Linked DNA regions of Homo sapiens: all the other regions are linked to region 5. Evidence: fine-mapped expression QTL. A gene starts in region 5. Each other region holds a variant in brackets. All regions are shown on one strand. Distances are from middle to middle. Region 1 has its middle 2.9 kb from the start of CFL2. Region 2 overlaps SRP54-AS1 (SRP54 antisense RNA 1). Region 3 overlaps PRORP (protein only RNase P catalytic subunit). Region 4 overlaps PPP2R3C (protein phosphatase 2 regulatory subunit B''gamma). Region 5 holds the start of FAM177A1 (family with sequence similarity 177 member A1).

Region 1 (5,096 bases), 330 kb after region 5:
ATTTTTCATGTCTGTATGATTAGCCTATGGTTTTAAAATCTACAGCTTTTGGCTAGGTGTAGTGGCTCATGCCTGTAATCCAAGCACTTGGGGAGGCTGAGGCAGGAGGATCTGTTGAGCCCAGGAGTTCAAGACCAGCCTAGGCAACATAGGGAGACTTCATCTCTACAAAAAATATGAAAATTAGCTGGGCGTAGTAGCACATGCCTGTAGTCCCAGCTACTCAGGAGACTGAGGTGGGAGCATCACCTAAGCCCAGGGAGGTCAAGCCTGCAGTGAGCCATGATCGTGCCACTGCACTCCAGCCTGGATGATGGTGAGACCCTGTCTCAAATAAATAAATAAGTAAATTTAAAAAATAAAAACAAAAATAAAATCTACTGTGTTTTGTTTTGTTTTGTTTTTTTAAGAAAGTCTCACTCTGTCGCCCAGGCTGGAGTGCAGTGGCTCAGTCTCAGCTCACTGTAGCCTCCACCTCCTGGGTTCAAGCCATCCTCCTGCCTCAGCCCTCCCAAGTAGCTGGAACTATAGGCATGTGCCACTACACCCGCCTGATTTTTTTTATTTTTTGTAGAGATGGGGTCTCACCGTGTTGCCCAGGCTGGTCTTGAACTCCTGAGCTCAAGCAATCCACCCACCTTGGTCTCCCAAAGTGCTAGGATAACAGGCATGAGCCATCACGCCCGGCCAAAATCTACTGCTTTTGTAATAAAGTAAGTTAAACAAAGGAGTGTTTAATAAATTACTAGCAAGTTTCTTTTCTCAGATGACGTTTTATATGGTTTGTATAATTTAGGTAACCAGTTGCTATTTACTATCACAATTCAATTACTATCAATGCATTATTAATTAACATTGTGATTGAGGTTTTACAAATAACTGGCGGGTGAATCTGATAAATTGTGTCTGAGTTAATAAGTTGAAGCTGGTATGTTTTACACCATTGAAGTTGGTAATTATAGTTTGAGACCATTTTGAACTACATTTCACTAATTATTGCATTTCAATACTGCTACCTCTTCATTACCACTTCATGTGACACAGATTACTGATAAATTCCTTTATTGTGAGGTCATTCTCCTAAATTAGAAAGAACCAGAGATGGCATATGTAAGACCCAAAGTGAGTTTGTGGATGAGAGTGAGTCACAGAGATCAGACTCCAAAAAAACACCTCCTACTGTATTTATTTTCTAGTTCTAAATTCAAACTTGGATTTAGAAAAATATACGACTTGACTCCTCATCAGTCTTTTTTTTTTTTTTTTTTGAGATGAGTCTCACTTGTCGCCCAGGCTGGAGTGCAGTGGTGCAATCTCGGCTCACTGCAAGCTCCACCTCCCGGGTTCACGCCATTCTCCTGCCTCAGCCTCCTGAGTAGCTGGGACTACAGGCGCCCGCCACCACGCCCGGCTAACTTTTTGTATTTTTAGTAGAGACGGGGTTTCACCGTGTTAGCCAGGATGGTCTCGATCTCCTGACCTCATGATCCGCCCGCCTCAGCCTCCCAAAGTGCTGGGATTACAGGCGTGAGCCACTGCGCCCGGCCCCTCATCAGTCCTTTAGCTCAGGCGTGGGTTAGGAAGGATATGTCAGAGTTAGGAAGGCATGTCGGTAGAAAGGTACATTTTGAAGTGGTAGTGTCTTTATGCTTACATTTGTCTTTGTCAGGAAGTGGCTGTGGGAGCTGAGAATGTGATGTCTCTTGACAGGGAGTAGGGCTTACACACAGTTTGTCTGCATAATCTTCCAGATTCACTGTTTTAGATAGTTCTTTCAAACTTTTACATGCCACAGAACCTCCATCCACATTGTTTCTCAGGTGTGGTGGCTCATGCCTGTAATTCCAGCACTTTAGGAGGCCAAGGCGGGAGGACTGCTTGAGCCCAGAAGTTGAGACCAGCCTGGGCAACATAGTAAGACCCCCATCTCTGTAAGTGAGTAAGTAAATATATACATAATAGATTGTTTCTTGGGGGAATAGATTATATATATTAAGGGATGATCACCTTTCCAATTTTTTAAAGAATCCTGAGTAAACAAACTTTAGCTGAGTCTTCAGAATCAATGAGGATTGGGACGGCTTCACGCTATTGCCTATGAGTTGATAAAATCAGTGCCTTCATCTTCACTCTGCTGGTGGTAATAACAGCTCCAGGGTTCCTATTTCTGTGCTGGACAAGGGCTTTACATACATTATCTCTCTTGATCCTCCCCATAATCCTGAGAGGGAAGAGGTCATATAATCCCTATTTTACACATGATTTGGAAACTGAGCCTTATGGCAGCTAAATCAATGGCCTGAAATTGCACCGCTACTAGTGTCTGAGCTGAGATTACATTCAGAGGTTACTCTCACTAAGTTCCTAATAGTTGTCACTGCCATCTATGTGTGGTCTAGTAAATGGATAATTATAGCTTAGATGTTTACAGCACAAAAGTATCTAGTACCACATTGTTCGGGGTCCCTCTGTCACACCTATTAATTGTTTGCTTGAGCTTGAAATTGCTCAGAACAGTTGTATGGTAGGCAGAATAATGCAACCCCTCCTCACAAAGGTGTTCCTGTCCTAACCTCCAAAGTCTTTGAATGTTAACTTGTACGAAAAAACAGACTTTGCAGATGTGATTAAGTTAAGGATCTTGAGAGGGGGAATTATCCTAAACTACCAAGTGGGGTCCAAAGTAACCATAATGGTCCTTATAAGTGGAAGACGGAGGCAGGAGAGAGAGAGTCAGAGGAAATGTGATGACTGAGGCAGAGGTCAGAGTGATGCGACTGCTGCCTGGGGCCACAGGCCAAAGATGATGGGCAGGTCGAGTGTGGTGGCTCGCACCTGTAATC[C/T]CAGCACTTTGGGAGGCCAAGGTGGGCGGATCACAAGGTCAGGAGATCAAGACCATCCTCGCTAACACGGTGAAACCCCATCTCTACTAAAAATACAAAAAATTAGCCGGGCATGGTGGCGGGTGCCTGTAGTCCCAGCTACTCAGGAGGCTAAGGCAGGAGAATGGTGTGAACCCAGGAGGCGGAGTTTGCAGTGAGCCGAGATAGCACCACTGCACTCCAGCCTGGGTGACAGAGTGAGACTCCATCTCAAAAAAAAAAAAAAAAAATGATGGGCAGCCTCTAGATGTTGGAAAAGGCAAAGGAGTCTCCCACTACAGTCTCTTGACTTTAGCCCCATCAGGCTTATTTCTGCTAGTTGTGGTGGTTCATGCCTGTAATCCCAACTACTCGGGAGGCTGAGGCAGGAGGCTCACTTGAGGCCAGGAGTATGAGGCTGCAGTGAGCTATGATCACATCCTGCACTCCAGCAACCTGGGTGGGCAACAGAACCAGAGACTATCTCTTAAATATATATATATAGAGAGAGAGACTTGTTTCTCTGACTCTGTAAGACCATAAATAATAAATTTGTGTTGTTTTAAACAAGTAATTTTATGGTAATTTGTTATAGCAACAGTCGAACGCTAATACATGTGGTATCTGACACTCAGATCCCCCTCCACTACACAGTGACCAAAATTCATGCAGCAATGATTGGCAATGCTGCCCCTTTACCAAGTGGTGGTAAGTTCTGGTTATAACTCACAGAGGTGAAGGCAGGAAGCTGCTACTGGCCCTGACATTCTCAGTGCCATGCTCACAAGGGCATGTAGAAAGGCTTCACAATTTTCAGAAGCTTCCTTTTCATTCTCTTTACAGCACTAAAGCATCTTAAATGTATTATTTCAGCACCTATTAAGCACCTACTATCTGTCAGGTTCCAGAAATTCAAAGATAACCAGGACTCAGATCCTTAAGGAGCTTACAGCGCAGTAGGGTGGCAGAAGACATAAACAAGTTATTATAATGTAACAAAATATATGCAAGACAAAAATAACTTCAGGAAAAGAATCTTAGAACATGTGAATTACCATCTCTGTTTGGGGAGGGTAAGAGAGAATGGGAGGCATGGAAAGGGGTTGGAGTCCGAGCTAGGGGGTGACTAGCATCTTTGGAATCCCCAGCTTTGGTGGGTAAGGTTCTGACACCCACTTTAGGCCCCAGTGTCATCAGACCTGGTCTCTGCTGGGGCTGCTGCAAATCTCTGAGGTTGGGAAGGGAAGGTAACCGCAAGATGAAGCGAACAGGAATTTGCTAATACCTACACATAGCAGATGATCAGAGCTCTGGAGAGACATTCTCCATGACTTCTTGGAAGTTCAACAGATAAAGTGAAAGGTTCCATAAATTGTAATGTACCAGCTAGATATAAAGTATTATCCACTTGCTTGGGATTCATGCTTAGACATTGGGAAATCCCTTCTCAATTTTTGTCTCTAAACGAAGTCTATCTTCCAATTAAGAAAACAAACCCAAGATATAGACAGAAAAATAGGTCTGTTTCAATGCCTAGCATGTTCCATTTAAAATACAGTAAATTTGGGCTGAAAGAACTTATCACGCAATCTAGGGCAAACACCATCTCATGACTTTCCTGCCTAACCTCAATCCTGAGACCACCAAAAACACACCATTTCCTACTGAACATTGATATACTCAGAAACTGAAATCTAAAGCTGGAAAGGGCCTTAACGATAATTTAATAACAGTTTGTTTTACACATGAAGAACCCTGAGGTATGGAGGAGTTAAGATTAAAAAAAGAGAAACTGCCTTGGCGCAGTTATATGGGCTTTGCTAGAAGAGGCTGCGTCGGCTTATTTGATATCAGCTGTCATAGCTGGAGCTTCATGAAATCTCTAAGAGAGAGTACAATCCATTTCCTATGAAGTCTAAAATGTAAAAGGATATTACTAAGGAATGCTACCACGTAATTTTTTAATCATAATTATTATTTCAACCAGAGTTTTGAAAAGTGATTTACCAACACTGCGTATCATTTTGTTTTTGCTAAGTACTATCAACTGGAGCAATCTCGTGTAGTATTTATTCTCATTTATCTCTAAACAACTGGGGGTTTTCCAAAAAGACTCAAAATGTCGAAATCCAGCCTCTTTCGGGAAAACCACAGGTAAATAAGGAAAGACACCTTCGCAGGAGTTCCCCTCACACGCACCCACCCCTGGCGCAGGGCCCTACGGAGGCGGTGGAA
Region 2 (5,104 bases), 96 kb after region 5:
AGTAACTGGAATTACAGGCGTGCCGCCACCATGCCTGGCTAATTTTTGTATTTTTAGTAGAGATGGGGTTTCACCATGTTGGCCAGACTGGTCTCGAACTCCTGACTTCAGGGGTCTCACTCTGTCCTGACTTCAGGTGATCCACCTGCCTCGGCCCCCAAATCAAGGAAGCACTTCATGGCTTCTCTGGCATATCTAACTTGCCAGCATCACTACTCTGTGCTTTGGGGCCATTCTTAAGTAAAATAAGCATTACTTGAAAAGCAAACAAAAAAATGAAAATTAAAAAAAAAGAAAATTTAAAAAACAAACAAAAAAGAACGAGAAATAAGCCTTACTTTACCACCAGCCCTTCGATAAGGAGACAAAGGGCTTGATCTGACAAAGAAGACGCTACTAAGTGACTAACAGGTGGGTAGTGGAGACAAGTGTGGATCCCCTGGATAAAGAGATAATTCACTTCTGGGATACAGAGCAAGATGGCGTGAAATTTCATCATGCTACTCAGAATGGCATGCAGTTTAAAACCTAGGAGTTTTTTATTTCCGGAAATTTTTGTGTGCTGTTTTCAGATTACAGTTGACCACAGGTAATTGAAACTACGGAAAGAAAAACCATGGCTAAGTGGAGATCACTTTATATGCTTAACACATTTTTTAATAAATATGAGGTAAATATTCAAACTGTAGGATACCAAGGAGACATTACTACCACCACCTTCAATATTCTGTATGTGGAGTTATTCAACTTAGTTTTTAAATGTCTATATATTTGCCTAGAGACAACTAACTGTCATTTTATTTTATTTATTTTTATTATTATTATTTGTGCGTGTGGCATGAGGTCTCCCTCTGTAGCCCATGCTGGAGTGCAGTAGCGTAATCTTGGCTCACTGTAACCTCAACCTCCCGGGTACAAGCGATTCTCCTGCCTCAGCCTCCTTAGTAGCTGGGACTACAGGTGTGCGTCACCACACCCAGCTGATTTTTTTGGATTTTTAGTAGAGATGGGGTTTCACCATGTTGGCCAGGCTGGTCTCGAACTCCTGACCAGGAGTGTGGTGGTGCATGCCTGTAGTCCCAGCTACGTGGGAGGCTGAGGTGGGAGGATCACTTAAGCCCAGGAAGCTGCACCACTGCACTCCAACCTGGGCAATAGAGTGAGACTGTGTCTCAAAAAAAAAAAAAAAAATGCTAGTTTCTTACTTTAGGAGAATTTTTAGTGTTGGAAGCTTTATACTTCCCACAATTTGTCATTCCTTAGCTTGACCTCAACCTCCCTCTCTATCCTCCAGTGTTATGCAATGCATCTCAGAAGGTTTGTGGGGAAGGAGAAAAATAGAGTTAAGATAGTTTCATATTTCATCAGCCAAATGAAAAATACACAAAACAAAACCAGTTTTTCATATAGCATTGCTGGTACTCAAACAAAAACATTAAGATTACAGTAAATGTCCTAATTATTTAGCTCTTTACCATTTTACATTGATTTGATAAAAATTAAATTGATAGAAAATAAACGTATTAGAACTCTGGAACTTTTTTCAGCCAATGATTTTTTTAAATTATTAAACTTCATACAGGGCTGGGTGCAGTGGTTCATGGCTGTAATCCCAGCACTTTGGAAAGCCAAGACAGATCACTTGGGGCCAGGAGGTCAAGACCTGTGTGGCCAACATAGTGAAACCCCATCTCTACTAAAAATACAAAAAATTAGCTGGGCATAGTGGCACGCACCTGTAGACCCAGCTACTCAGGAGGCTGAAGCGCGAGAATCGCTTGAACCCGGGAGGCAGAGGTTGCAGTGAGCTGAGATTACGCCACTGCACTCCAGCCTGGGTGACAGACTGAAACTCTGTCTCAAAAAAAAAAAAAAACCGGCCAGGCGCTGTGACTCACACCTGTAATCCCAGCACTTTGGGAGGCCGAGGCGGGCGGATCCACGGGGTCAGGAGATCGAGACCATCCTGGCTAACACGGTGAAACCCCGTCTCTACTAAAAATACAGAAAATTAGCCGGGCGTGGTGGCGGGCGCCTGTAGTCCCAGCTACTCGGGAGGCTGAGGCAGGAGAATGGCATGAACCCAGGAGGTGGAGCTTGCAGTGAGCTGAGATCACGCCACTGCACTCCAGCCTGGGCGAAAGTGCAAGACTCTGTCTCAAAAAAAAAAA[T/AT]AAAAACAAAAGTAAATAAAATAAAAATAATTTTGAAAATTAACTTCATACAGCTTCTTCATTTTTTTTGTCACCTTATTCCCTCACCCAACCTCCAGTGCTGTCTAGTAATGCAGATGCCCCAGATGTCCCAGCCTCGTCCCATTTTGGGATACAACAGCTTAAACATTCCAAAATTTGATGAAAACTTCATCATTAGTAGACATTATAAGGTATTTTTTGTTGATGGTGAATTCCACAGCCATTCAACTATTAATTGCACTAATTTTACAAACATGTACTAAGCGTCCACTGTTTATCCAGCACTCTGCCAGACTCTGGATACAAACATGGAACACTTGGGTCCACTCTGAAGGAACTCACAGTCTAAGGAGAGAGGCGCTTCTTTCATTTAGATACAGGGTAAGGAAAGATGTCGCTGGTAGAGGGAATGCCATATGCGGGGGCATAGAGGAGAGTATTTTAGTATGACCAGGGTCCAGGCTAGGATTACATGAGGTTGGTAAAGTAGACGAATGCCAGATCGGGAAGGACATGGTGTCGCAAACAAAGGAGATCACATTGTATTCTGAAAGGGGGAGCCATTCCAAGATGCATTAGCATACTGATACAGTCAGAATAAAAGTATAGAAACGTAATTCTGAAGACGTTATTTAGGATGGATTAAAAGGGTAAAACATGGTCGGGTGTGGTGGCTCACACCTGTAATCCCAGCACTTTGGGAGGCCAAGGAGTGCAGATCACAAGGTCAGGAGTTCTGGACCAGCCGGGCATGGTGACGGGCACCTGTAATCTCAGCTACTCAGGAGGCTTGAGGCAGAAGAATTGCTTGAACCCGGGAGGCAGAGGTTGCAGTGAGCCGAGATCGTGCCATTGCACTCCAGCCTGTGCGACAAGAGCAAGATTCTGTCTCAAAAACAAAATAAAAGGGCAAAACAACAGCAAAGAAAATAAGTCAGCCACTGGAGTGGTCCAGCAAACCCAGTAGTAATGAACTAAGGCATCAACACTGGGAATGAAGGGAGAAAGAAGGAATCATGAAGTATTTAGGAGGGCCTAGCACTTTGTGGGGAGTAGATAAATCTGGAAGTGAGTAGTTTTAATAATTACATTTACGAAGAGATTTGAGAAAATCAGTGAGGCATTACAGCAAATCCATTAAGTCAAAAGATAATAGCAAGAAATCTGCTGCATGGAATCATACGCTAACAAAATAAAAAATAGTTAAATACTAAGTACATGGCCAAAAAAGAATGCCAGGAGGCAAACATTAAAACAATAGCTTGAATGGGAACCTGCCAAGGGTGAAACACACATATAAGATACACAAGGATAACTGCATTGAAGACAAGGATTAGGGTAGGGCATAAAATAAAGTTCTAAACATTGTAAATAAGAATCTAGCTGGGGAGCTGGGTGCTGTGGCTCATGCTTGTAATCCCAGCACTTTGGGAGGCCAAAGTGGGTGGATCACCTAAGGTTGGGAGTTCTAGACCAGCCTGACTGACACGAAGAAACCCCGTCTCTAATAAAAATACAAAATTAGCCAGGTGTGATGGCACATGGATGTAATCCCAGCTACTCAGGAAGCGGAGGCAGGGGAATCACTTGAACCCAGAAGGCAGAGGTTGCAGTGAGCCGAGATCGTGCCATTGCACGCCAGCCTGGGCAACAAGAGCGAAAGTCCATCTCAAAAAAAAGAATCTTGCTGCGGAAAAGAAGACAAACATAAGGGTTTCACTGGCGACATGCTAGTATAGTAAAAGATACGTACTTTATTTTTAATTTTTTTTTGAGACAGGGTCTAGCTTTGTCTCCTAGGATGGAGTGCAGTGGTGTGATCTCAACTCATTGCAGCCTCAACCTCCCAGGCCCAAGCAGTCTTTCCACCTCAGTCCCCCAAGTACTTGGGACTACAGCTGTGCACCACCATGCCTGGCTAATTTTTTGTAGGGACAGGGTTTCACCATATTGCCCAGGCTGGTCTCAAACTCCTGAGCTCCAGCAATCCACCTGCCTTTGCCTCCCAAAATGCTGAGATTACAAGTATGAGGCACCACTCCTGGCTTAATTTTTTTTTTTTTTTTTTTAAGACATGGTCTCACTCTGTCACCCAGGCTGGAGTGCAGTGGCATGATCTCAGCTCACTGTGGCCTCAACCTTTCAGGCTCAGGTGACCCTCCCACCTCAGCCTCCCAAGTAGTTGGGACTATAGGCACCCACCACCACACCCAGCTAATTTTTGTATTTTTTGGTAGAGACGGTTTCACCATGTTTTCCAGGCTCATCTCAAGCTCCTGGGTTCAAATGATCCACCTGCCTCAGCTTCCTAAAGTGCTGGGATTACAGGCCTAAGCCACCATGCCTGCCCAGATACCTACTTTAAAAGTAACTTTTTCCTTAGATACAGTGTTGTTTAGGCAGGCCTTGGAACCTGGGGTATTGCTTAATGCTTTAAGCAACTCAACCACTTTAGGCTGCCGTTTTATCCACTTGTAAAATAAGTTAATTCATCTTTTCTGACCATGAATTTCACAAGAGTATTATGTACATCGAGAATGATAAACAGTCCTTCAGACACACATATGGAAATGCACATAAATAGAATACAAATTGGAACTGATCTGTTTATCAGAAGAAATGTCCCAACCACATAGATAGATAAAGTAATCGTATTTGTATCAAGGATCCTCATTTCGAAGAGCATTCAACTTCAAGTTGCTCTTTGCCAACAACAATGATCATCCAGCTGTTAAGTTCTCTAACACTAATTGGTATTCTCAAATTTCTACTTTCTTTGAGGGAGATGAGGAAAAAATGCCCAATATAACCTTTTAGGAATAAATTAAATATAGATTATGGATTAGTGAAAATGTAATTACGTAGACTGAGGAGAAAAGAAAGTATGTGGCCAGGTGCGGTGGCTCATGCAT
Region 3 (5,104 bases), 90 kb before region 5:
CTAACCAGCAGCCACAGTTGAAAGCCGCTACATTAGAGGGTGTCATCTAATTTACTTTGTTTTGAACAACAGTACTATTTGGGGAAAACATATAAGCCTAAAATAACTTTTATAATGCTCATTTTAGGTGTTTATGGAGGTCAGTTGGCAAAATTTTTTTAAGTAGATTTAATAATTTAATAATTATTTAATAATTTATTCCTTTAATAATTATTCCTTGGTTTATACCTCATATTCTCAAATTATAAGCAAGCTTTAGAAAGCAACATTGAAGGCAGATCCAGCTATTTGTCAACTAGATGTTTCTAATGTTCCTAACACAAAATAATTTAAAATGCTGAATATAATATAGTTTTATTAACGCATATTTACAATGAACGGTATTACGGACTGACTTGTGTCCACTCACCAAATTCATATGTTGAAGTCTCAGCCCATAGTATTTCAGAATGTGACTGTATTTGGAGATAGGCCTTTAAAGAGGTAATTAAGGTAAAATAAGGTCATAAGGATGGGCCCTAATCAAATCTGATGGGTGTCCTTATAAGAGGAAATTTGTACATACAAAGATGATACCAGGAATACACCAGAGGAAGGCCATGTGAAGATACCACAAGAAGGTAGCCATCGGCAAGCCAAAGAGAGAGGGATCAAGAGAAACCAAAGCTGACAACACCTTGATCTTGGACTTCTAGAATCCAGAATGGTGAGAAAATGAATTTCTGCTGTTAAAGCCACCTGGTTTGTGGTATTTGCAATAGCAGCTTTAGCAAATTAATACAAATGGTGAGGAAAAAAAACAACCAACCAACCAAAACAAAACCAACACACACATGTACATGCACGAAGAGACAACCAGTCCCTGGAATCCTCTCATATAGTGCTCTTTGGCCTTCCTCCCTTTCCTATCTGGCCTGGACCCCATGCAGACCATGTTAACTACTTTGTCAGAATCGCCTTCTCTTGCTCTCTATCATGTGCCACATCTAACCAACAAAACCCAAACTCTGGACCAACGCTACCCTTTGTCTTTACTACCTCTGCTCTTGGTGAGCCAAGCTCTGTTGGAAATATATTAAATCACACAATCACACAGAGTAATGTCTACAGATTCACAGATTCAAACCTCAGCACCCACCCTCTGCCATAATCCTTCTGCCTTGAGTTAGCATCTTGACATCCCCTCAAGAACCATTCCAAACCTTCCCCACTCTCTCTAGTACTCTACTTGACTCTCATCTCTCTCATCTTGTATACCACTTAACACAGCAGGTATCATTTCTCTCAATGTTCCCTCTTTCTACCAATTTATCATCCACACCCATCTTCACTTTCTTTTCTACAGCCTCAAATGATATTTCCTTCATTTCCAACCTCCACATTTGTGCTCTTTTTGGCAACCCCTGCTACTTTTACTCAGCAATATTCCTTTTTCTCTCCTACATATCCTGTATACTCAATATTTTTTATCTCTATTGATACCTTTTCTTCATCCTCCAAACAGGCACAAGCCTATCTCTCTAAACCCTCCCTTGACTCCACCATCCTCTAGCCACCACTATATCATCTTTCTAATTTTCATGTAAACTTCTTAAAATTAGAGTTTACACTCAATGGGTATTCACTCAGCTGCTATAACCTGGCTGAATTTGGCCCCCATTAAACTACTGAAACTGTTCTTCCCAAGGTCATCAATGATTTCTTAGTTGCCAAATCCAATGTATCCCTTCAGTCCACACCTTAACAAATCTCTAGTGTATTGCACTCTGTTTTGATATTTGTGACACTGTACTGAATAGATTCTTTCTGCCTTGTTCTGACTGTTCTATCTAATATATGAAACTTCTTCTCTGACCTTCCTTCCTATGCTGGTGTTCCCCATCCCACCCCCACCAAGTTGTGAATTGAGCCCACTACTGTTCTCACTGTTTTCCTGGATGAGCTCAGGCACTCTTCGCATTTAACCTATTACTATTATGTGATGGTCCCCAAACCTCCAGCATTAACTCTCCCCTGTAAGCTGGAACCCAAGTCCTGGATCTTCTGCTGACATTAAAACCCAATATGGGCCAGGTGCGGTGGCTCACACCTGTAATCCCAGCACTTTGGGAGGCCGAGGTGGGTGGATCACCTGAGGCTGGGAGTTCGAGACCAGCCTCACCAATATGGAGAAACCCCCGTCTCTACTAAAAATACAAAATTAGCCGGGTGTGGTGGTGCATGCCTGTAATCCCAGCTACTCAGGCGGCTGAGACAGGAGAATTGCTTAAACCCGAGAGGCGGAGGTTGCGGTAAGCAGAGATTGCGCCATTGCACTCCAGCCTGGGCAACAACAGCGAAACTCTGTTTCAAAAAAAAAACCAAAAAAACAAAAAAACCCGTTGTCGGATATTCAATTATCTTCTCCTCATACCTGTTCTTGGTAGATGGCATCTTTCCAGGGTGACAAAAGAAAAGGAATTAGGGAGTGAGAGTTTGTTCACCCCATCACCCAAGCCGAAAACCTGAACATCATCCTGTCTTCTCCCATCACTGCAGCCAAACCAAATGGTGAAATTTTTATCTCCTAAAATGTTCTCAAAGCTGAGCTGGTCCTTCTCTACCCTTATTCTGGCTTTCATTTCCCTCATCATCCCACACCTGGACCACTCAGCAGCCGTCTGACTCAACTCCAGTGCCTCAATCTTATCCTTTTCAACTCCTTTTTCCAACCAGCTGCCAGAGAGGTCTCTCTAAAATATACATATCATA[C/T]TTTTGCTTAAAACACTTTTTTTTTTTTTTTTTGAGACAGAGTCTTGCTCTGACGCCCAGGCTGGAGTGCAGTGGCATGATCTCAGCTCACTGCAACCTCCGCCTCCCAGGTTCCAGCGATTCTTCTGCCTCAGCCTCCTTAGTAGCTGGGACTACAGGTGCACGCCACCACGACCAGCTAATTTTTGTATTTTTAGTAGAGACGGGGTTTTCCCATATTGCCCAGGCTGGTCTCAAACTCCTGACTTCATGATCTGCCCGCCTCGGCCACCCAAAGTGCTGGGATTACAGGCATAAGCCACTATGCCCGGCCTGCTTAAAACACGTTAATGGCTCCCCAGAACCTATGACAATGTTTCTTAATAATAGCTGCTCATTATCCTATAGTATGCTATAGGACCAACCAATGAGAAAGGAGAGGCCCTCTCCTGGATGCCACTGCTCCTTCACACTCATTACTTCTCCAGAGGTTTATGATATTCATTGATACCAGGGATCAGCAATTTTTTTCTGTTAAGGGCCAAATGGTAAATATTTCAGGCTCTGTAGGCCACATGTTCTCCTTTATATCTACTCAACTCTGCAGGACAAAAGTACCATAGACAGAGGAGAAGGGGTGGAGCAAGAAGGCAGAATAAAAGGCTCCACTGATCGTCCACTTGCAAGGACACCAATTTAACAACTATCTACACATGTAAAAAAAGCACCTTCAAAAGAACCAAAAATCAGGTGAGGACTCACAGTACCTGGTTTTAACTTTGTATCACTGAAAGAGGCACTGAAGAGGTAGGAAAAACAGTCTTGAATCACCACTGCCATTCCTCTCCCATCCCCCTGCAGCAGCAATGTGGTGCAGAGAAAGACTCTGAGTGTTTGGGAGAGGGAGAGTGCAGCAATTGTGAGACACTGCATTGAACTCAGTGCTGCCCTGTTATAGCAGAAAGCAAAAATAGAACAAACTCAGCTGATACCCACCCACAGAAGGGGCATTTAAACTAGCTCTAGCCAGAGGGAAATTGCCCATCCCAGTGGTTGAAACTGGAGTTCCCACAAGCCTCACCACCATGGGCCAAAGTGCTCCAGGCCCGTAAATAAATTTGAAAGGCAGTCTAAGCCACAAGGATTGCAACTCTTAGGTGAGTCCTAGTGGTGAACTGGGCTCAGAGCCAGTGGACTGGTAGGGGCATGTGACCTACTGAGACGATAGCTAGGGGAGTACTGGTGCCATACCTCCCCTAAGCCCAGGCCGCACATCTCACAGTCTCCTAAACAGACCCACTCCTTCTACTTGAGAAGAGATGGAAGAGTGGGGAGGACTTTGTCTTGCATCTTGGACACCAGCTCAGCTACAGCAGGATGGGGTACCGGTCAGAGTCATGAGACACCCCCTTTTCTAGGCCCTAGCTCCTGGACATTTCTAGACACACTCTGAGCCAGAAGGGAACTCACTGCCTTGAAGGGAAGAACCCAATCATGGAAGGATTCATCACCTGCTAACTGAAGAGCCCTTGGGCCCTGAATAAGCAGCAGCAATATCCAGGTAGTACATCATGGGCCTTGAGTGAGACTCTGATATTGCTAGCTTCAGGTACCACCTCAGCCAGAGGTGGGTAGAGCACTAAGGGTGAGTCCCAGGCCAGGCAGCATGCACCACAAGCTGACTGAAGAGCCTTTCGGCCTTATGAGAACATCAGTGGGAGCCTGGCAGAACTCCCTGTGGGCTGGTGGTGGCGGTGGCCACACGGTGGGGCTCCTCTGCTTTTGGAAACGGGAGGGAAGAGTGGGAAGAACTGTGTCTTATCATTTGAATGCCAGCTCAGCCACAATACAACAGAACACCAGGTAGACTTCTAAGATTTTTGACTCTACTCCCTGGCTCCCAAATGGCACTTCTGGACCTGCTGAGGCCTGGGGGAACTTGTCGCCCTGAAGGGAAGAACACAGGCCTGGCTGGCTTTACCAACTGCTGATTGTAGTGCCCCAGGGCCTTGAGTGAACACAGACAGTAGCCAGGGAGTAGTTAAGCAGGCTTTGGGCAAGATCCAGTGCTCTGCTGGCTTCAGGTCTGGCCCAGCACAGTTCTAGTGGTGGTGGCCACAAGGGTATTTGTGTGACTACGTCCTCAGCTCCAGGTGGCTCAGAATGAGAGGGAGAGACTGTTTGTTTAGGAAAAAGTAAGGGAAGAGAACAAGAGCTTCTGCCTAGTAATCCAGAGAATTCTCCCTGATCTTGTTCAAGGCCATGAAGGCAGTACCTCTTACCACAGCATTACTGGGCTTTGGCTGCCCCCTAAAGCACATACAACTTAGATCACAACACCCAAGTCCTTTTAAGTATCTGGAAAGCCTTCTCA
Region 4 (5,104 bases), 50 kb before region 5:
GGGCAACAAGAGGGAAATTCCGTCTCAAAAAAAAAAAAAAAAAAAAAAACTAGCCAGGCGTAGTGACACACGGCTGTAGTCCCAGCTACTTGGGAAGCTGCTGAAGTGGATCACTTGAACCCAGGAGGCAGAGGCTGCAGTGAGCCAAGATCGGGCCACTGCACTTCAGTCTGGGCAACAGAGCCAGACCTTGTGTCCAAAAAAAAAAAAAAAAAATCCAGTTATGAATCCAATCACAGCATATGGTAGCTGACAGTGTTTTTTGAACTCCTCTACTATAAGTACACACATATATACTTTTTCAAATTTTACAAAATAATATCACGTTTTGACTTATGTAGTATGCTAAGCATTTTACATGGATTCATTCATTTTCATCTCATAACCCCATAAGGAAGGTACATTATTGTCCACATTTTATGTGTAAGGCAACTGAGACTTTGCTAGGTTACATATTTAAAAGTGGCATTCAAACTCCAATCTGGGCTAGGTGTGGTGGCTCACACCTGTAATCCCAGCACTTTGGGAGGCTGAGGTGAGAAATCACTGGTGCCTAGGAGTTCAAGACCAGCCCTGGCAAGACAGACCTCTTCTGTACAAAAAAGCAGCAGCAGCCAGGCGCAGTGGCTCACACCTGTAATCCCAGCACGTTGGGAGGCTAAGATGGGTGAATCATCTGAGGTCAGGTGTTCAAGACCAGCCTGGCCAACATAGTGAAACCCCATCTCTACTAAAAATAGAAAAAATTAGCTGGATGTGGTGGTGGGTGCCTGTATTCCCAGCTACTTAGGAGGCTGAGGCAGGAGAATCGCTTGAACCCAGGAGGCAGAGATTGCAGTGAGCTGAAATCACACCATTGCACTCCAGCCTGGGCAACAAGAGCGAAACTCTGTCTCAAAAAAAAAAAAAAAAAGAACAAGAACAAGACAAAACAAACTCTGCTCTTAAACCACACCTGTTTACCTGCGTATTGCTTTCTAGTCCAGAACCTGCCAAAAATAAATGGAGACAGTGTCCCTGTTCGTGTACCAGCAGTACTATATCTATAATCACAACTTTTTTGAAAATCTGACATCAGTATAATTTTAGAATTTACCACTTAGATTTATATAGTTGAGGTATACAAGTAGAGATGTTATTAAATGTTGCCTGTAGGTTTCTCTTTTTTTTTTGCAGGGTGGGGATGGAGTTTTGCTCTTGTTCCCTAGGCTGTAGTACAATGGCTTGATCTCAGCTCACTGCAACCTCTGCCTCCCAGGTTCAAGCGATTCTCCTGCCTCAGCCTCCAGAGTAGCTGGGATTACAGGCGCCCTCCACCACACCCAGCTAATTTTTTGTGTTTTTAGTAGAGATGGGGTTTCACCATGTTGGCCAGGCTGGTCTGGAACTCCTGACCTCAGGTGATCCACCTGCCTCAGCTTCCCAAAGTGCTGGAATTACGCGGTGAGCCACCGCGCCCAGCCGAGATTTCCCTTTTTGTAGCAATATGTAATAAGGACTTTGGAGCATAAGAGCTAGAAGCTTTAAAATATCAATTGTGTGATTGCTCTTGTTAAAAAAATTTTTTTTTAATTAATTGAGTTGCTCTTTTCTTAAAATGAAATTAATTGTGTTTCTTTATGTTCTTAAAGGAAAGATAAAAATTCAAGATATTTTAGCATGCAGCTTCCTAGATGATTTATTGGAGGTAAATGTTTTTAAACTACTTAATTGTATCACTTGACAGTTGCTATCTTCTAATTATGTCTTTGTGTTCCATTAGCTAAGGGATGAGGAACTGTCCAAGGAGAGTCAAGAAACAAATTGGTTTTCTGCTCCTTCTGCCCTAAGAGTTTATGGTATGTTCCTATCATAATGCTAAAATTTGAATTATCCATTCTTCAGGAAATTGGTGTTCAGAGGACAGTTTTATACATACACTGATATACCTTAAGATCAAAATATTTAATTACCTTAAGCTTTAGTATTCTACATTACCAAAATTTACTTGTTTAAATACCGATGTTTTAACTTTTTGGACTCCCCCCAACCTTTTCTTTTTGAAGACAGGGTCTCACTCTGTCACACTGGCTGGAGTGCAGTGACATGATCACGGCTCAGTGCAGCCTTGAAGTCCTAGGCTCAATCCTCTCACCTCAGTGCCCCTACCCCACCCACCCCACCACCCCCAGTACTGGGTCTACAGGCGCCATGCCTGGCTAATTTATTTTATGTTTTTTTAGAGATGGGATCTCACTGTGTTGCCCAGGCTGGTTTCAAACTCCTGGGCTCAAGCAGTCCACCTGCCCTGACCTCCCAAAGTGTTGGGATTATAGGCATGAGGCACTGCACCCAGCAGAACCCTTTTTAAGTTATACACTTCCTTTTCAATAGAACAGAATGTAATTTGATCCTTGTTGACTCAGGAGCATCATTATGAACATTAGCTATTGTCATGCTTTGTTGATAAAATGCTATTCCCAGGGTCTACTGATGGAGCTAATCTACATTATCTTGTTGGGTGGTCTTTTGACTCCTTTGGCTTTTTTTTTTTTTTTTTTTTTTGGAGATAGAGTCTTGCACTGTTACCTGGGCTGGAGTCCAGTGGCATGATCTCGGCTCACTGCAACCTCCACCTCCCAGGTTCAAGTGATTCTCCTTGCCTCAGCCTCCCAAGTACCTGGGATTACAGGCGCTCGCCACCACACCCGGCTAATGTTTTTTTTTTTTGTTTT[T/G]TTTTTTAGTAGAGACGGTGTTTCACTATGTTGGCCAGGCTGGTCTGGAACTCCTGACCTCTGATCTGCCCTCCTCAGCCTCCCAAAGTGCTGGGATTACCGGCGTGAGCCACCACGCCCGACCTCCTTTTGGCATTCTTATCTCTACTTTCAAGTGCTAGCATTTCAGTGCTTTTTGTTGGCCTCTACCTCCATTTAATTTAGAAACCTAGGAATGTTTAAAAAGACTGCAAACTGAAAACAAATAATGATGTAAGTGAAACAGCCCAGAGACTATGGCCTTCATGATGGGTTTTTTTGGCTGTTTCTAGCCCAAGGGTTTTTCTGATCAAGATTGCAAAGGTAGCTGATAGTATTACACATAGGCCACTACCCTAATCATAACATGAATAGTTTGAAAATCAAAATATTAACCAAGAAAAAACTTTTTGTTAGTCTATTCTTCTGATTAAAATTTTATTGTGGTCATAAGTGTCTTTATTATTTTTCTTCCCAAGGCCAGTACTTGAATCTTGATAAAGATCACAATGGCATGCTCAGTAAAGAAGAACTCTCACGCTATGGAACAGCTACCATGACCAATGTCTTCTTAGACCGTGTTTTCCAGGAGTGTCTCACTTATGATGGAGAAATGGTAGTAGTTTAAATCTGCTGCTAAGTTTTAAAAGTTTAGGCTCCCAGAGTTTCCACAAACCCTTTTCTTGATGTAATACAGCCCTTTTTTTTTTGAGACAGAGTCTTGCTCTGTCGCCTAGGCTAGAGTGCAGTGGTGTGATCTCCGCTCAATGCAACCTCCACTTCCTAGGTTCAAGTGATTCTCCTGCCTCAGCCTCCGGAGTAGCTGGGATTATGGGTGCATGCCACTGCATCCAGCTAATTTTTGTACTTTTAGGAGAGATGGGGTTTCACCAGGTTGGCCAGGCTGGTCTTGAACTCCTGACCTCAGGTGATCTGCCTCCCAAAGTGCTGGGATTACGAGGCGTGAGCCACCACACTCGGCCCAGCATTATTGATATCACTGTGTAACAGTGTCTTTAAAATGTGTAAACTGATCAAATTACTTGAGATTCAGAGTCTTTGGTCTTAACGTAAATTAAAACATCTGCATTATGGCCTCAGGGCAAATAGAAAAGCTTATTGTTCATTTCATTGTCAGTGCACCTACTGTACAGTAGTGCATTCTAGTTTTTTTTTTTTTTTAAAAAAAAGCTGAGGCCAGGCTTGGTAGCTTATGGTTATAATCCCAGCGCTTTGGGAGGCCAAGGCCACAGAACCACTTAAGGCCAGTCGTTCAAAACTAGCCTGAGCAATACAGCGAGACTGTCTCTACAAAAAATAAAAAAATTACTTGGGCATGGATGGAATGTGCCTGTAGTATAGCTACTCGGGAGGCTGAGGCAGGAGGATTGCTTGACCTGAGGAATTTGAGGCTGCAGTGAGCTATGATGAGGCCACTGCACTCCAGTCTGGGCAGTAGAGTGAGACCATGTCTCTTAAAAGCTGAAACATTAGTAAATTATTCTGGCTATTTTCAGCTAGATAGTTCCGTCATTAAATTACCAGGTCAAATGTAGTAACACATATGCCATGATTTAATTCTGAGAATCAGGTTGTATTAGTCTCTAGAAGTGGCTATATGAACAGCTGAAGATAACATGCACTTGTCTTTTTATTATAACAATGCAAAATACTTGAGAAGGAAAATTCTAAACAGCATTTTAAAATCACCATTTTTGCTGCTAAAAACATGGGTTAAGAATCTGATAACTTTGGGAGGCCGAGGCGGGTGGATCACAAGGTCAGGAGATGGAGACCATCCTGGCTAACACGGTGAAACCCCGTCTCTACTAAAAATACAAAAAATTAGCTGGGTGCGGTGACGGGCACCTGTAGTCCCAGCTACTCCAGAGGCTGAGGCAGAATGGTGTAATGGTGTGAACCCGGGAGGCGGAGCTTGCAGTAAGCCGAGATGGCGCCACTGCACTCCAGCCTGGGCAACTGAGCGAGACTCCATCTCAAAAAAAAAAAGAATCTGATAAATTTCCCAAACCAGTTATGCTTAAAAAATAGTCATATTGTCATGAGAATGGGGGGGTCTTACATTTATCATTTAGCTTCAATAGCAGTTTGCTAAATAACACCATTAGTAACAACAAAAGAAAAGAGGGGAAAAGGCACAGAAAATTTACTTTGTAACTCCCACAGCTGTAAACAATAGACAGTGAGGAGCTTATATTATTAATATAATGATTCCTGATGAATAGAGAAAATCAGGCTACAACTATGGATGAAGTCAGATCACAATCTGCATTCTTTAACTCTTTAGTGCTATTTATGCAGAAAGGAACTTTTCTAAGAATATAAAATTTTTATCTAAGTGAGAACCTCCC
Region 5 (5,104 bases):
CTCCCTTTCCCTACATTGCACTAGGGATTTCTCAGTTCTGCCAAACTTGGGAAGAAGTGTAAGATAGAGGCCTCTCCATCTCCTGAGATGTCCACTTCCCTGTTACTGTGCTCAACCCCCTGGGCATAGAACTGGAGTTCCCAAAGATGTTTCTGATTCAGGAATGTGAATCTGAAAGCACAAAGGGCAAATCAGAAAATGGAACTCATTGGTGTTTAACAAGAAAGAAGAGATATTTAATATTTAATAATATATATAATATATAAGAAATATATAATATTGAATGATAAAATTCCAGAGAGACTACACCAAAACTTAATAGTTACCTTTGGGGAATGAGAACATGAAGAAAGGGTGGTGGTGGGGTATTCCTGTGAATTTTTATCTTTTGTTCTACAGCCTTCTTTACTGGTTAAGTACTTATTTGTTAACCAAGAATGTGAAAACAACAGAATATCACTAACCCCAATCAAAGAGCCTCTCACTTCAAACAACATTTAGCTGGTATATAAGTACACGTGTGTTTACTTTGCTATTAGATCCAGGGCGGAGGTAGTGATTTTAAAAAAACAATTCTAGTAACAACAGGAAAAATCAAATTGAAAAACATATCAAGCACCATGGACTCAAAGGTTAAGTGTAAGTGCACTTGCCAACAATAGGTCTCAACTCAACTGAAAATGACGTGGCTTCCTTATCAATTCATGTTGTCCCCTGAATCCCCTTCTTAAGTAGGAGGGAAAAAACGTATTCCATATAGAGTTTGGTATGTGGGAAAGTTGTGTTTTTTGTTTTTGGGGTTTCTTTAGTTTTTTATTTAAGAGATGGGTTCTTGCTCTGTTGCCCAGGCTGGATAAGCTTTTGTTAATGCAAACGACATCTTATACTATAAGAGATACACAGAGATATACTCACAGTTTGGGGGAAATGTCTTACTAACATTCAGGTACTTAGTCTCAAAAATGAAGCTACTGAAAAAGCTTCATTCTCATGGAGGATGGGAAGAGTTACATACATGAGCAACTCAAGGGTTTTTTTTTTGTTGTTGTTGTTGTTGTTGTTGTTGTTGCTGTTTTGAGACGGAGTCTCGCTCTGTCTCCAGCCTGGAGTGCAGTGGCGTGATCTCGGCTCACTGCAACCTCCACCTCCAGGGTTCAAGCAATTCTCCTGCCTCAGCCTCCCGAGTAGCTGGGACTACAGGCGAGCGCCACCACGCCCAGCTAATTTTTGTATTTTTAGTAGAGAAGGGGTTTCACCATGTTGGCCAGACTGGTCTTGAACTCCTGACCTCAGGTGATCCACCCGCCTTGGCCTCCCAAAGTGTCTTTTTGTCTAATACTGAAAAGTTGCAAGAAACGTTAACTCTCTAAACCAGCGCTGTCCAATACAGTAACCACTAGCCACATGTGGCTAATGCGCACTTGAAATGTGGTCAGCCAGAACTGCGATATGCTATGCGTGTAAAATGCACCCAGGATTTAAAAGACTTAGAAAAGACTCCAAAAGAGAATGCAAATACTTCATTAATAACTTTCATAGTAATTTTAGGTTGAAATTGTTTTGATAAATTAGGTTAAATAAGATATGCTATTAAAATTAATATCGGTTTCACTTTTTTAAAACGTGCCTACTGGAAAATTTTAAATTACAATTTTCAATGCAGCTTGCATTCTATTTATGTTGGACAGCGCAGCTCGGAGCCTTAGTTGCCTCGGCGGTGAAATGGGGCTAACACCCACCTCGAGCGGTTACTGTAAGGATCCAGTGAATTAAAGCTGGTAAACGTTTGGCATATGCCAAGCAAAGGGCAGATGCCCAGGCAGGCGCTCGCACCAGAAGAGACTGAGAAGTGGTTGAAGCCGCCCTCACCTGGCTTCCAGCTACTGCAAGGACAGCCTTTGGGGGACACGCCTTTCTTCTTCCTCTGGTAGACCAGAAGCTGGACTATCACCCCAGGAACCCGAGGCCGCCCCAGAGTCTGCTGTGCTGCCAGCCAAGGGGTTGGTGAGTGAGGCGGGGGGCGCTCCTTCCCACAAGCTGGTCTCAGTGAGCAGAAACAGGGGTGCAGTGAGGAGGAACTCCAAAGCTGGGGCGGCCTGCTCGGAGGACGGCCGCGCAGGCTAAAAGAGCGGCCCGCGGAGAAGGCAAGGAGGCGGCTCGGCTCCCCGGACGTCAGCCTCGGCGGCCCCACCTACCTGCCCTGCAGATTCCCCGAATGCCGCGGCGGCCGCAGCTCCCGAGGCTGCGACGGCTTCTCCTCGTTCCACACCGCCCACTGGCTCCTGGTCCATCGTCGTCGCCACCACAGGGCTGCTGGCGCTGGTGAGAAAGAGGGTAATGGCCGGTAAGCCCACTTCCATCCTTGGTCTCCCCGCCCAGTCGCTGGCCGAGCCAGGCTGTCGGGAAGTGGGACTCACCCGCCCAGCGCCCGCCTCGCGCCGCGCCTAGCCAAGTCTCTGAGAAGGGGACTCGCCGGCCTGAGGGGCGGGGCCAGCCCGCGCCTCGCCTAGCCCGCCGGGCTCCGCACCCCGAGAGCTGGCCAACTGCAGTCTGGGAGGCGCAACTACCGGCTCGCGCGGGGCGGGGCGGGGCGGGGCGGGTCCTTGCGGGGCGTCGCTTCCGGCCAAGCAAGCATCCAGAGCTCGTGGATCCCCGCCTGGCACCGCCTGTGACGTCATTTCTGGTACGTGTACCTGAAGCCTGGCGTCTCGACCTCGGCGCAGCCCGTCACCAGCGGCGTCTGGGGCAGTCACCCCGCAGGACCTCGGTTTTTGCACTTGTAAAATGAAGACAGCTGTGTCGTTGTACTTCAAAGGCTAGTGATGGGATGTGGTTGCTGAAAAATGTAAAATGTACGGCTCGTGCTGCACTTTCCATTCCAAACGTGGGTGACAGTCCAGCCAAAATACCCTCGAAAGAAGAACCCCAGGCGTGATATTTGCTTACTCTTGTCTGAAATACTTAAGTATAACTGTAGAAAGTGTTAAGTGAAAAGACCTGAAGGAGAGCAAAGGGCAGTAGTAAGCTTCCATCTTGACAAATGTAAGGAATGTTTTATCTGTGTCTTAAAGTCGTGTGCGTATGTTAGAGGGGGCGTCCCAGATTTTTTCCGTCTTTCGCAATGTTCAACGAAAGTAAAAAATCATGCAATTACTGCATGACTTCAACATCAAACAAGTCTGAGGTTCTGCAGGTAAATGGTATATTGTTGTTTTAGCATGAAAGTTTTCACAAATATGTAGGGGGCAAAACCAAAACATACATTATTTTGGCTATGGGAGGCTTCATTTGATACTTTAAATTCCATTTTCATACTAGTCTCAATTCAGAAATGCTCCCTAAAGTTGTATGACCTTGTAAATGTTTTTCATCATAGCAACAGCAGGCCCAAATATTAAATATTCCTTTCTCTTCTGTGCCAAAGTTCTTCTCCTTACCCTCTGCCTAATGTTATTGTACACTTCCTATTCTATGTATAACTGGAACCTAAAAACAAAACCAAAAACTTTAAAAAACAAATAATCATTTGAAAACCATCTACGCCTTAAAAACTAGTTGGAAATCCATATTGCTCTCTATCCTGGTAATAAAATCAAGTTAGGTTGCTGCTGAAGTAAACAAGTTAGTACCTGATCTGACTCTGTATGGTGGCATCAGCAGGGAGTTGAGACAGTCCAAAACAGCAAAACCAAACTCGGCCATAAATTGAAAACAAAAATAAAGAACCAATTGTTAAGACTTCATGAATTGGCATTCATAAACAACACAGTTCTGCATTATATGTATTCAAAATCTCTTCCTTCTTACTGGCAAGCAGGGCAATCAACAATCTTTATTACTAAAACTTTGTGGGATATTTATAAATGCATGATTTTATTTTCCAAAGTGGCAATTAAATATCAAATTACAATTTTCTTTTTCTTTTTTTTCTTTTTTTTTTTTTTTGAGATGGGGTCTCACCCACGCTGGAGTGCAATGGCGCAATCTTGGCGCACTGCAACATCCGCCTCCCGGGTTCAAGCGATTCCCCCACCTCAGCCTGCCAAGTAGCTGGGATTACAGTTGTGCACTACCACGCCCGGCTAATTTTTGTATTGTTAGTAGAGACGGGGTTTCACCATGTTGGCCAGGCTAGTATCGAACTTCCGACCTCAGATGATCCACCCACCTCAGCCTCCCAAAGTGCTGGGATTACAGGCGTGAGCCACCACGCCTGGCCTCAAATTACAATTTTCATTGCCGAAGCAGAATATATTTTCACAGTTTACATGTGTATTTCTTAGTTTACTGAAAATTCAAAGTACAAGTTACATTCTAACGTGAACTGGAAGTATTTCCTAAAAAGTTATTTTTAACACAAATATCCAATTGAAGAGCAGTTTATTACAAATCAACAACTCGGGCTGGGCACGGTGGCTCACGCCTGTAATCCCAGCACTTTGGGAGGCGGAGGCGGGTGGATCACGAGGTCAGGAGATCGAGACCATCCTGGCTAACACGGTGAAACCCCGTCTCTACTATAAAATACAAAAAATTAGCCGGGCGTGGTGGCGGGCGCCTGTAGTCCCAGCTACTCGGGAGGCTGGGGCAGGAGAATGGCGTGAACCCGGGAGGCGGAGCTTGCAGTGAGCCGAGACCGCGCCACTGCACTCCAGCCTGGGCGACAGAGCGAGACTCCGTCTCAAAAAAACAAAAACAAAACAAATCAACAACTCAAAGCAACATAAAAGCATAGAAATTCTAATGGTTTTATTTTGGACATTTATATTTTTGTCATTATTTCCAAACTGTTATAGCTCAACCAAAAGTAGGCACCAAGGCAATGTGCCAAATTTTTCCTTCTTTCACTTTGTAACATAAATTGTATCGTAGCACTATGACAAAAATAAATTCAAGTATTATGATAATTTATCTACTTGAAAACATAATGTGGTCTAAATTTATCATTTAATGATACATATAGAGCTAAAAAGGTAAATTTGGATTGAACCATTTCTGCGTAAGGCTGGGAAAATAAATCTGAATAAAATTTGATAACCAGGAATGTTCATCAAATAAACAAGACATTCTTAGGGTTTTAACATAGCTACATATATATACTTTG

The links. PIP is the estimated chance that this variant, and not a neighbour inherited with it, causes the effect.
Region 1: its variant is fine-mapped to the expression of FAM177A1 in whole blood (INTERVAL, PIP 0.93).
Region 2: its variant is fine-mapped to the expression of FAM177A1 in monocytes (BLUEPRINT, PIP 0.91).
Region 3: its variant is fine-mapped to the expression of FAM177A1 in whole blood (TOPMed, PIP 0.98).
Region 4: its variant is fine-mapped to the expression of FAM177A1 in activated CD8 T cells (Schmiedel 2018, PIP 0.95).

Annotation. Positions count from the first base shown.
Region 1 is chr14:34,714,950-34,720,045 of GRCh38, reverse strand. No RefSeq gene overlaps it. Among named protein-coding and RNA genes, the nearest start is that of CFL2, 2.9 kb to the right of the region's middle. RefSeq lists a silencer at 5,017-5,096. The variant C/T (reference allele first, on the strand shown) is at 2,844.
Region 2 is chr14:34,947,666-34,952,769 of GRCh38, reverse strand. The region is part of intron 2 of SRP54-AS1 (SRP54 antisense RNA 1); the gene reads left to right. Among named protein-coding and RNA genes, the nearest start is that of SRP54-AS1, 32 kb to the left of the region's middle. The variant T/AT (reference allele first, on the strand shown) is at 2,172.
Region 3 is chr14:35,133,638-35,138,741 of GRCh38, reverse strand. The region is part of intron 4 of PRORP (protein only RNase P catalytic subunit); the gene reads right to left. All of the region lies in intron 4 of PRORP-PSMA6 (PRORP-PSMA6 readthrough), which reads right to left. Among named protein-coding and RNA genes, the nearest start is that of PRORP, 14 kb to the right of the region's middle. The variant C/T (reference allele first, on the strand shown) is at 2,752.
Region 4 is chr14:35,093,292-35,098,395 of GRCh38, reverse strand. It overlaps PPP2R3C (protein phosphatase 2 regulatory subunit B''gamma), which reads left to right. Exons shown (of 13, transcript NM_017917.4): 8 at 1,632-1,687; 9 at 1,763-1,838; 10 at 3,212-3,348. All of the region lies in intron 1 of LOC101927178 (a long non-coding RNA gene), which reads right to left. Among named protein-coding and RNA genes, the nearest start is that of PRORP-PSMA6, 26 kb to the left of the region's middle. The variant T/G (reference allele first, on the strand shown) is at 2,715.
Region 5 is chr14:35,043,720-35,048,823 of GRCh38, reverse strand. FAM177A1 (family with sequence similarity 177 member A1) reads right to left here and starts at 2,552. Exons shown (of 5, transcript NM_173607.5): 1 at 2,196-2,552. The coding sequence starts at 2,360. RefSeq lists enhancers at 1,683-1,742, 1,843-2,112, 2,833-3,032 and a silencer at 2,363-2,712.